Homo sapiens: one gene and its partner. The protein of the gene in region 2 interacts with the protein of the main gene of each other region in a biochemical or structural test. Each region holds a gene or a part of one and is shown on either strand. Other genes may lie near its edges.

The links. The genes of interacting proteins can lie anywhere in the genome.
Region 1: the proteins of UBE2J2 (region 2) and RNF14 form a complex in vitro, tested with the Homo sapiens proteins (one study listed by BioGRID).

The regions. Positions count from the first base shown.
Region 1 is NC_000005.10:141,979,105-141,982,852, forward strand, and holds part of RNF14 (E3 ubiquitin-protein ligase RNF14), read left to right. Parts: intron 1-1,018; coding exon 1,019-1,247; intron 1,248-3,748. UniProt on the Homo sapiens protein: E3 ubiquitin-protein ligase that plays a key role in the RNF14-RNF25 translation quality control pathway, a pathway that takes place when a ribosome has stalled during translation, and which promotes ubiquitination and degradation of translation factors on stalled ribosomes.
Region 2 is NC_000001.11:1,260,185-1,263,932, reverse strand, and holds part of UBE2J2 (ubiquitin-conjugating enzyme E2 J2), read left to right. Parts: intron 1-546; coding exon 547-587; intron 588-1,542; exon of another isoform or gene 1,543-1,648; coding exon of another isoform or gene 1,649-1,664; intron 1,665-3,748. UniProt on the Homo sapiens protein: Catalyzes the covalent attachment of ubiquitin to other proteins. Seems to function in the selective degradation of misfolded membrane proteins from the endoplasmic reticulum (ERAD).

The sequences.
Region 1 (3,748 bases), on a different chromosome or scaffold from region 2:
CCATAAACCTTGGGGAATCACTAGCTTATTCTTGTGTGAGGTTGGCATCTGAAGGGGACGTCTCTTAGAATGATTAACCAACTTTTTTATAGACTTCAGCAGAAGTACAGCCTACTTAGGTGGTGGTGGTGTTGTTGTTGTTGTTGTTGTTGTTGTTTTGTTTGAGATGGAGTCTTGCTGTGTCACCCAGGATGGAGTGCAGGGGCATGATCTCAGCTCACGGCAACCTCTGCCTCCAAGGTTCAAGTGATTTCCTGCCTCAGCCTCCCAAGTAGCTGGGATTACAGGCACCCGCCACCATGCCCGGCTAATTTTTTTTGTATTTTTAGTAGAGACGGGGTTTCACCACGTTGGCCAGGCTGGTCTTGAACTCCTGACCTCAAGTGATCCTCCCGCTTTGGCCTCCCAAAGTGTTGGGATTACAGGCGTGAGCCACTGCTCCTGGCCAGTTTTTTGTTTTCTTATTAAAGCATAATTTTACTTAAAATAAACTACACATTTAAATCATACAAGGCTAGCATGGTAGCTTACACCTATAATCCCAGCACTTTGGGAGGCCAAGATAGGAGGATCGCTTGAGGCTAGGGGTTTAAAACCAGCCTGTGCAAAATAGCATGACTCCATGTCTTAAAAAAAAAAAATCAGGCATGATGGCAAGTGCCTGTTGCCCTAGCTACTTGGGAAGCTGAGGTAGAGAATCATTTGAGCCCAGGAGTTCAAGGCTGCAGTGAGCTATGATTGCACCACTGCACTCCAGTCTGTACGACAGAGTAAGACCCCATCTCTAAAGAAATAAAACTAAAATATAAAATAAATTGGACACTTTGCTTAGTTTTAACAAATGTGTAGACCCCTATAATTGTCATCTCAGTCAAAATGTACTTGGTTTGATTTTGAAGTGAAAGAGAGGTTTTAATTTATGTGCCCATCTGGTTTACACTAGCATCCTAAGAATCGCCTCAGGTTCAGAACTGGTTGTGGAATCATCAAACCTATGGTGTTTTGTATTTCCCTCCAGGTCAAAGAGTTAGTGGAAGCAGAGTTATTTGCCCGTTATGACCGCCTTCTCCTCCAGTCCTCCTTGGACCTGATGGCAGATGTGGTGTACTGCCCCCGGCCGTGCTGCCAGCTGCCTGTGATGCAGGAACCTGGCTGCACCATGGGTATCTGCTCCAGCTGCAATTTTGCCTTCTGTACTTTGTGCAGGTTGACCTACCATGGGGTCTCCCCATGTAAGGTGACTGCAGGTATGTTTTAACTGTGAACCCAAACCCCCATCCCCAGTCTCTCCCTCACATTTCACTCTACTACCAGGGCCTTATGACTTCATTCTTCAATTTGGAAGTATTCATTTAGCAGATATTTCTGTGTCAGTGACTATCTCAGGCCTTGGGGCTGTAGTAGTGACCAGAAGAGACAAAATGTCTGCCCTCATGGAACTCACATTCTACCAGGGGAGACAGGAAAACAAAATAAGGATATTAGGTGGTGGTAAGTGCTGAAGAGGCAGAAGAAATAAAGCAAGGACAGGATATGAAATGTTCTGAAGGGGAGGGGACTTGGGATTTTAGTTAGGGAAAACAGGGGAGGCCTCACCGGCAAAATGGTTTAAGTAAGGACTTGAAGGAGGTAAGAAAAACCGTGCAGATACCAGGGAGGAACATTCCAGGAGAAGGAATGGCACAGGAAATTCTATATACAAACATGGAATAATGTAGATCCTGGATGGCCAATGCAGGGCATCTAAGCTGCCATTCTTGTCTCCATGGCACATGTGTTTGACTAGTCATCAAATGCTTTCTCCTTGAGCCCAGAGAGGCCTCAGAATCTTCCTCAACATGGCACTTCGGAAAGCTACCCTCTGATGAAGTAGACACAGGAGTGAAATGTGTTTGCCGTTTCCAGTCTACGTAAGGAATCATAAATCAGGCCCTTAACGTCGATTTAATTGGACTTTGGTGGCTTAGTCTTCTTCAGACTAACAGGGATAATGATAACAGCTACCTCACAAAATTGCAGCTAGAGCAGATAACAATAACTTCACGGGGTTATTCTAAGGATGAAGGGAACGAATATCATGCTATTCAAAATTGTTATATTTGTTACACTGGTGTATAATATATAGAAATTGAGAGGGTTAGAAACTTTTATAGTGATTTCACATAATTTTATGTCAAATCTAATAAAAATTTAGACTTTTTTTCATTTTTCTAATAATTGATTGTTAGCTGACTGTGGTGGTGCACACCTGTAGTTCTAGCTATTCAGAAGGCTACAGCAGGAGGATCTTTTGAGCCTCAGTTGAGACTAGCTTGGGCAACGTAGTGAGACTCTGCTTCTAAAAAAATTAAATCAAGCAAACCTGGTTATATCTTATAAAAGTGTTGATCTTTGACGTATCAGAGAAAAAATAAACTGGGCCTTTACCATAAATAGTTTGAGAAACAGTGGGCTAATACATGTAAAATGCAGAATGGGGCTGGGCATAGTGGCTCACCTCTGTAATCTCAGCACTTTGGGAGGCCAAGGTGGGCGGATTGCTTGAGTCCAAGAGTTTGACACTATGGCAAAACCCCGTGTCTACAAAAAAATACAAAAATTAACGAGGTGTGGTGGTGCACATCTGTAGTCTCAGCCACTCAGGTTGCTGAGGCGGGAGGATCGCTTGAAACTGGGAGGTAGAGGCTGCAGTGAGCCAGATTGCACCACTGCACTCCAGCCTGGGGGACAGAGTGGGACCCTGTCTCAAAAAAAAAAAAAGAGGAAAAAGAAAAATAGTAATTATTAATGCTATTATTATTGTAGTTATTACTTGCTAATGTTAGCAGACTGTCATTATTTCCAAGAAAGTACCATGAGAGGAAAGAGTGGGTAGATAATTTCAGTTGCCTCAGGCAGCACCTTGCAGAAGGTAAGGCCAGATGGAATGGAGAACTTAGCAATGTATAATATAAGCCTTTACTTTAGACTTCTGTAACCTTTTCATTAAAAGTCAACAGTACATTTCAAGTGTTTCACAGCATTCAGGGAAGAAATTGAAGATAGATTCAGGGCTTTAGCAAAATTAGGAATCTCTCCCTCTCTTTGTATGTATATATTATATAAAATATGAAATACAATTTTATTATTTTGGGAAGACTAAAGCAATATAACCTTTGTCCTTAAGATGCCTAGGAACACAAAAATGCATTGAATTATTAGAGGGATGAGATTTACATTGCTTCACTGCTACATTGAAGTAGAGGTGATGAAGCTGTGGGAATGTACTACACAGAGAAAGAATTCACAGGTGAAAGCAAAGAGTGGAGATAGGATATAGGATTCTATACCAGAAGATGTCTTTTGCTTTAAAAGGGAGATAGACTTCCAAATAATGTGAGGAAAGTAAACTGATAAAATAACTAGAACATTGTTGAGAAAACTCTTTAATTAATTGTATTGAAAAATTAAGGTAATACAACTGTGAACAAAAGCCTTTTGTCTGCAAGTAAAACCTTTGGGATTGGTTACCTGTTCCATTTCAGTTAAATGATAGAGCAGTAGAAGCCAGATTGAAGAGTATCGAGGGAAAACTTTTCAGCACCTGTAGCAAAGCATAGTACGGGGTGAGACTTGGGTGCTAAGTTTTATTCACTGATTTTTTTTTTTTACACAGAATTGAAGAGGTAGTCTTTGCCCTTAAGCCAAAAGTGCCTTTGTATTTGGTAGGCCTCTTCATTATCAAACAGTGAATGGTGCTGACTTAGTG
Region 2 (3,748 bases):
GCAGCCTTAAACTCCTGGGCTCAAGTGATCCTCCCGCCTCAGCCTCCTGAGTAGGCGGGCTGCAGGCATGCACTACCACACCCGGCTAACTTTTTTTTTTTAAATAAAGGTGGGGTCTTGCTATGTTGCCTAGGCTGGTGTCAAGCTCCTGGGCTCAAGCGATCTTCCACCGTGCCCTCCCAAAGTGCTGGGATTACAGTCTTCAAGTACATCTTAGTAATGTACTGTGAAATTAAAATTTATTTAAGATTTCAGTTATTATTAAGATGAGCTTCGTGCATGTTATATTGTCGAAACAAAGGTACTTTATGGTAAACTTATAAAGTATAGTCTCTAAGATCCTGTTACAAGAGACTAAAAGCACCCACGGTAGAAGAGACGGGGGTTTTGAAGCCGTGTGGCTGTGTGACATTTCACCTTCATTTGTTCACTGCCTGAATGTGAATGTAATTTTGGCTGGGTTCTATAAACCCCAGGCTTGGAATGATTCAGATTTTGGAGAATTTGCTGTCCTCAAATCCCAAGTAATTTTCTTCTCTCCCTTAGGCACTATGTCGTCCGAGGCCCAGAGATGACCCCTTATGAAGGTAAGGATTCTGTGCTTAGGAGAAGAACACCAGGCGGTTTTTATATTCTCAGTCAGCCTTGCCTGTTCAACATCTTTTATTTGCAAACAGCAGCCTTTCTACTTTGGATGTGTGCTAGTTAAATTGGCTTAGTTGGAACTCCTCCTCGTCTGCTTCTCCACACGCTGGAAGTGTTTGCTCTGCTGATGTGTCTCAGCCTGCAGGGCCGCCTGTAGCGTCTGTGTTCACCAGCCTCTGACACCATAGGGCCATAGCTGAGAAAACCAGACCGGGGTAAACACTGAAGCTGGCCTGTTCTACTATTTCTTAAGACCCAGTGCATATCATCAAAGGAAAGGCACATATATTCAGTTATTCAGTGTGCCTTCTGTGCTGGGCGCCCCCAGGGTTTCGCAATCCCCAGGACGGTCTCTGAGCTAAGTGGAAGTACCCCTGTGTGGTGGCACCTGGGGCTTCGGTAGGCTGCAGGACCTGTCCAGCACCTCAGCCCTTCATCGACTACCAAGGCTGATCCAGCAGCCTGACCCCTCCAGGTCAGCAGACACCACCTAGAGACCTAGTGTCATTTATAGAGAAGATGCTGGAGCTGTCAGTAAGTTTCTGGGGCCTTTGGCGGAGGCTGGCGCCAGCCTCGATCTGGACCAGGTCAGTAGTCAGTGTGCCCGTGAATACTGTCCCGCCGGCAAGCACAAGGCAGAGCAGGGCCAGGTCAGCAGTTGCTGTCCAGCCACAGGGCCCCGGCTTCAGGTGGCTGGAGCAGCAGGCTCTGTTTGCCTGTGTGTGGAGGCTTTGGATGAGATTTCACTAGAAGAGAGTGCTGCTGCTAGAAGAAGGTTTGCAACCCCTGCTTTGGACTGTCGGGAGGGTTGTGGGTGGGTAAGAATGAAAAAGGCTCTCCTGAAGGCATTTTGGCCGAGTTAACACAGCCACACCTGTGGACTCTCCTTTGGCCCAGGAATCCCAGTTCTGGATCATCTGCAACTAGGGCAGCCAGAGTGCGGGAGTACATCTGTAGGGTGGGCCCTCCATCATCGTGTCATTGCCCATGACCAGCGTTGGGGATGCCAGCAGGCCGTGGTGAGATAAGGCCCGGGAGCAGGTGTCCAGGGCGTGTTAAAGTACTTGTTACGATGCGTGTGTGTGCCTTCAGCTGATCTGAAGAATATATACCACCGAGTGAGTAGTGGTCGGCCGGGCGCGGTGGCTCACGCCTGTAATTCCAGCACTTTGGGAGGCTGAGGTGGGCGGATCATCTGAGGTCAGGAGTTCGAGACCAGCCTGACCAACACGGAGAAACCCCATCTCTACTAAAAATACAAAATTAGCCGGGTGTGGTAGTGCATGCCTATAATCCCAGCTACTCGGGAGGCTGAGGCAGGAGAATCACTTGAACCCGGGAGGCGGAGGTTGCAGTGAGCCGAGGTCGTGCCGTTGTATTCCAGCCTGGGTGACAAGAGTGAAACTCGTCAGGAGATCCAGACCATCCTTGCTAATACGGTGAAACCTTGTCTCTACTAAAAAAATACAAAAAATTAGCTGGGCGTGGTGGTGGGGCCCTGTAGTCCCAGCTACTCAGGAGGCTGAGGCAGGAGAATCGCTTGAACCCAGGAGGCGGAGCTTGCAGTGAGCCGAGATCGCTGCACTCCACCCTGGGTGACAAGATCAAAACTCCATCTCAAAAAAAAAAAAAAAAACCAAAATGGGTGGTGGTCTTTGACAAGCAAAATTATGCCAGCTTTACATTTTTTTTGTTTGTTTTGTGGTTTTAGTTTTTTAAAAATAAATAGTGAATATTAATTCTGTATCCACACCCAGTCTCCCTCAACTTCACCAGCTAGGTCAGTTGCTGGTGGAGATGAGCTGCTCCCCCAACAGGGCTGGACACAGTTGGGAGAAGAGGGGGCAGCCCCTGGGTGTGGTGCGGCCGTTGCCAGCCCCAACCCTGTCACTTGTGCTTTTATCTTGGTCCCCTCCCATCGCTTCCGTTGTTCCCCACAACCGTGTGTGGCTCTGTGCTGGTCCTGGGTCTCAGGAAAGCCTCCCTTCAGAGAGAGAATGTGTGTTCCTACTGCCCCTCCCATTTCCCTCTATGGCACTGCTGCTCCCGTCCCCGCGGACCTCCCCCTCACTGGGGGATGCCTTTTGCTCTCTGCAGCCCTGCCCTCTGCTCTCCTTCAGGGTCTCCAGGGAACCCCTCCGAATTGCCACTTGCCGAGGGGCTGTTCTCAGTCCTCAGTTTCTTAGCCTCTGGTATCTGATGCTGCTGACGACAGCTTCCTTCCTGACTTCGGGATTTCTGACCCCTTTTCCTGCCTGTGCATTAGCTGCGTCCCCTCCGTGCACTGGGTTCCGTGGCTGTTCTGCCCCTGGTGCTGCCCAGGCGTGCCCACTCTGACAGTTCAGAGCTGGCTTCCTACAAATGTTGCTAAATCATTCCCCTTGAGTGAATCTGTAGATTTCACACAGTCCTAACAAAATCTCAGTTTTTTATACTACACAAGCTACATGCAAAGGCAAAGGACCTAGAACAGTTAAAACCATTTTTCTAAAGAATGAAGTGGAGTCTGTGGTTTCAAGACTTACCCCAGTGATGAGGGTCAGGCAGTGGTAGAGGAGGGACAGGCCATGGGGCAGAGTAGCCAGCTAGGCCTTTGCCTCAGGCTTTTCAGCAGATGGCCTGGGGTGTGGGGATGTTCAAGCTGCCAGGGACCCACTTCAGGACAAGTGGGTGCTTCCTGATTTTCATCTGGTGCTGTGAACGTCTGTGTGTGTGTGGCTCTTGGTGCCTTTGTCTTGGGTTTCTCTGGCGGGTGACAAGCAGTGGGATAGCCGTCTGGGGCTTCCCGATAGGTGTGCGCGCAGTGAGGCAGCAGGGCGCCCGTCTCCCATCCCGACAGGTGTGCGCACGCAGTGAGGCAGCAGGGTGTCCATCTCCCAGCACCCTCTGCGCTCAACTGGCTGTTTCCTGCCGTGTAAGTCACTCTTGCCCATTAGCACCGAGCTAAACATCGTTCCAGCCTCGCTTTGGCTGTTCCCGCTTCCTCTTTTAAGCAAGCCTGTTTCTTTCACTCACTTTCCAGTTTGGCCTTTCCTTATGATCTCTTGTGTCTTCTGGGTGTCATTCCTGGGCTTCGCCTCTCCCTGGTGGATGTGGCCGCACG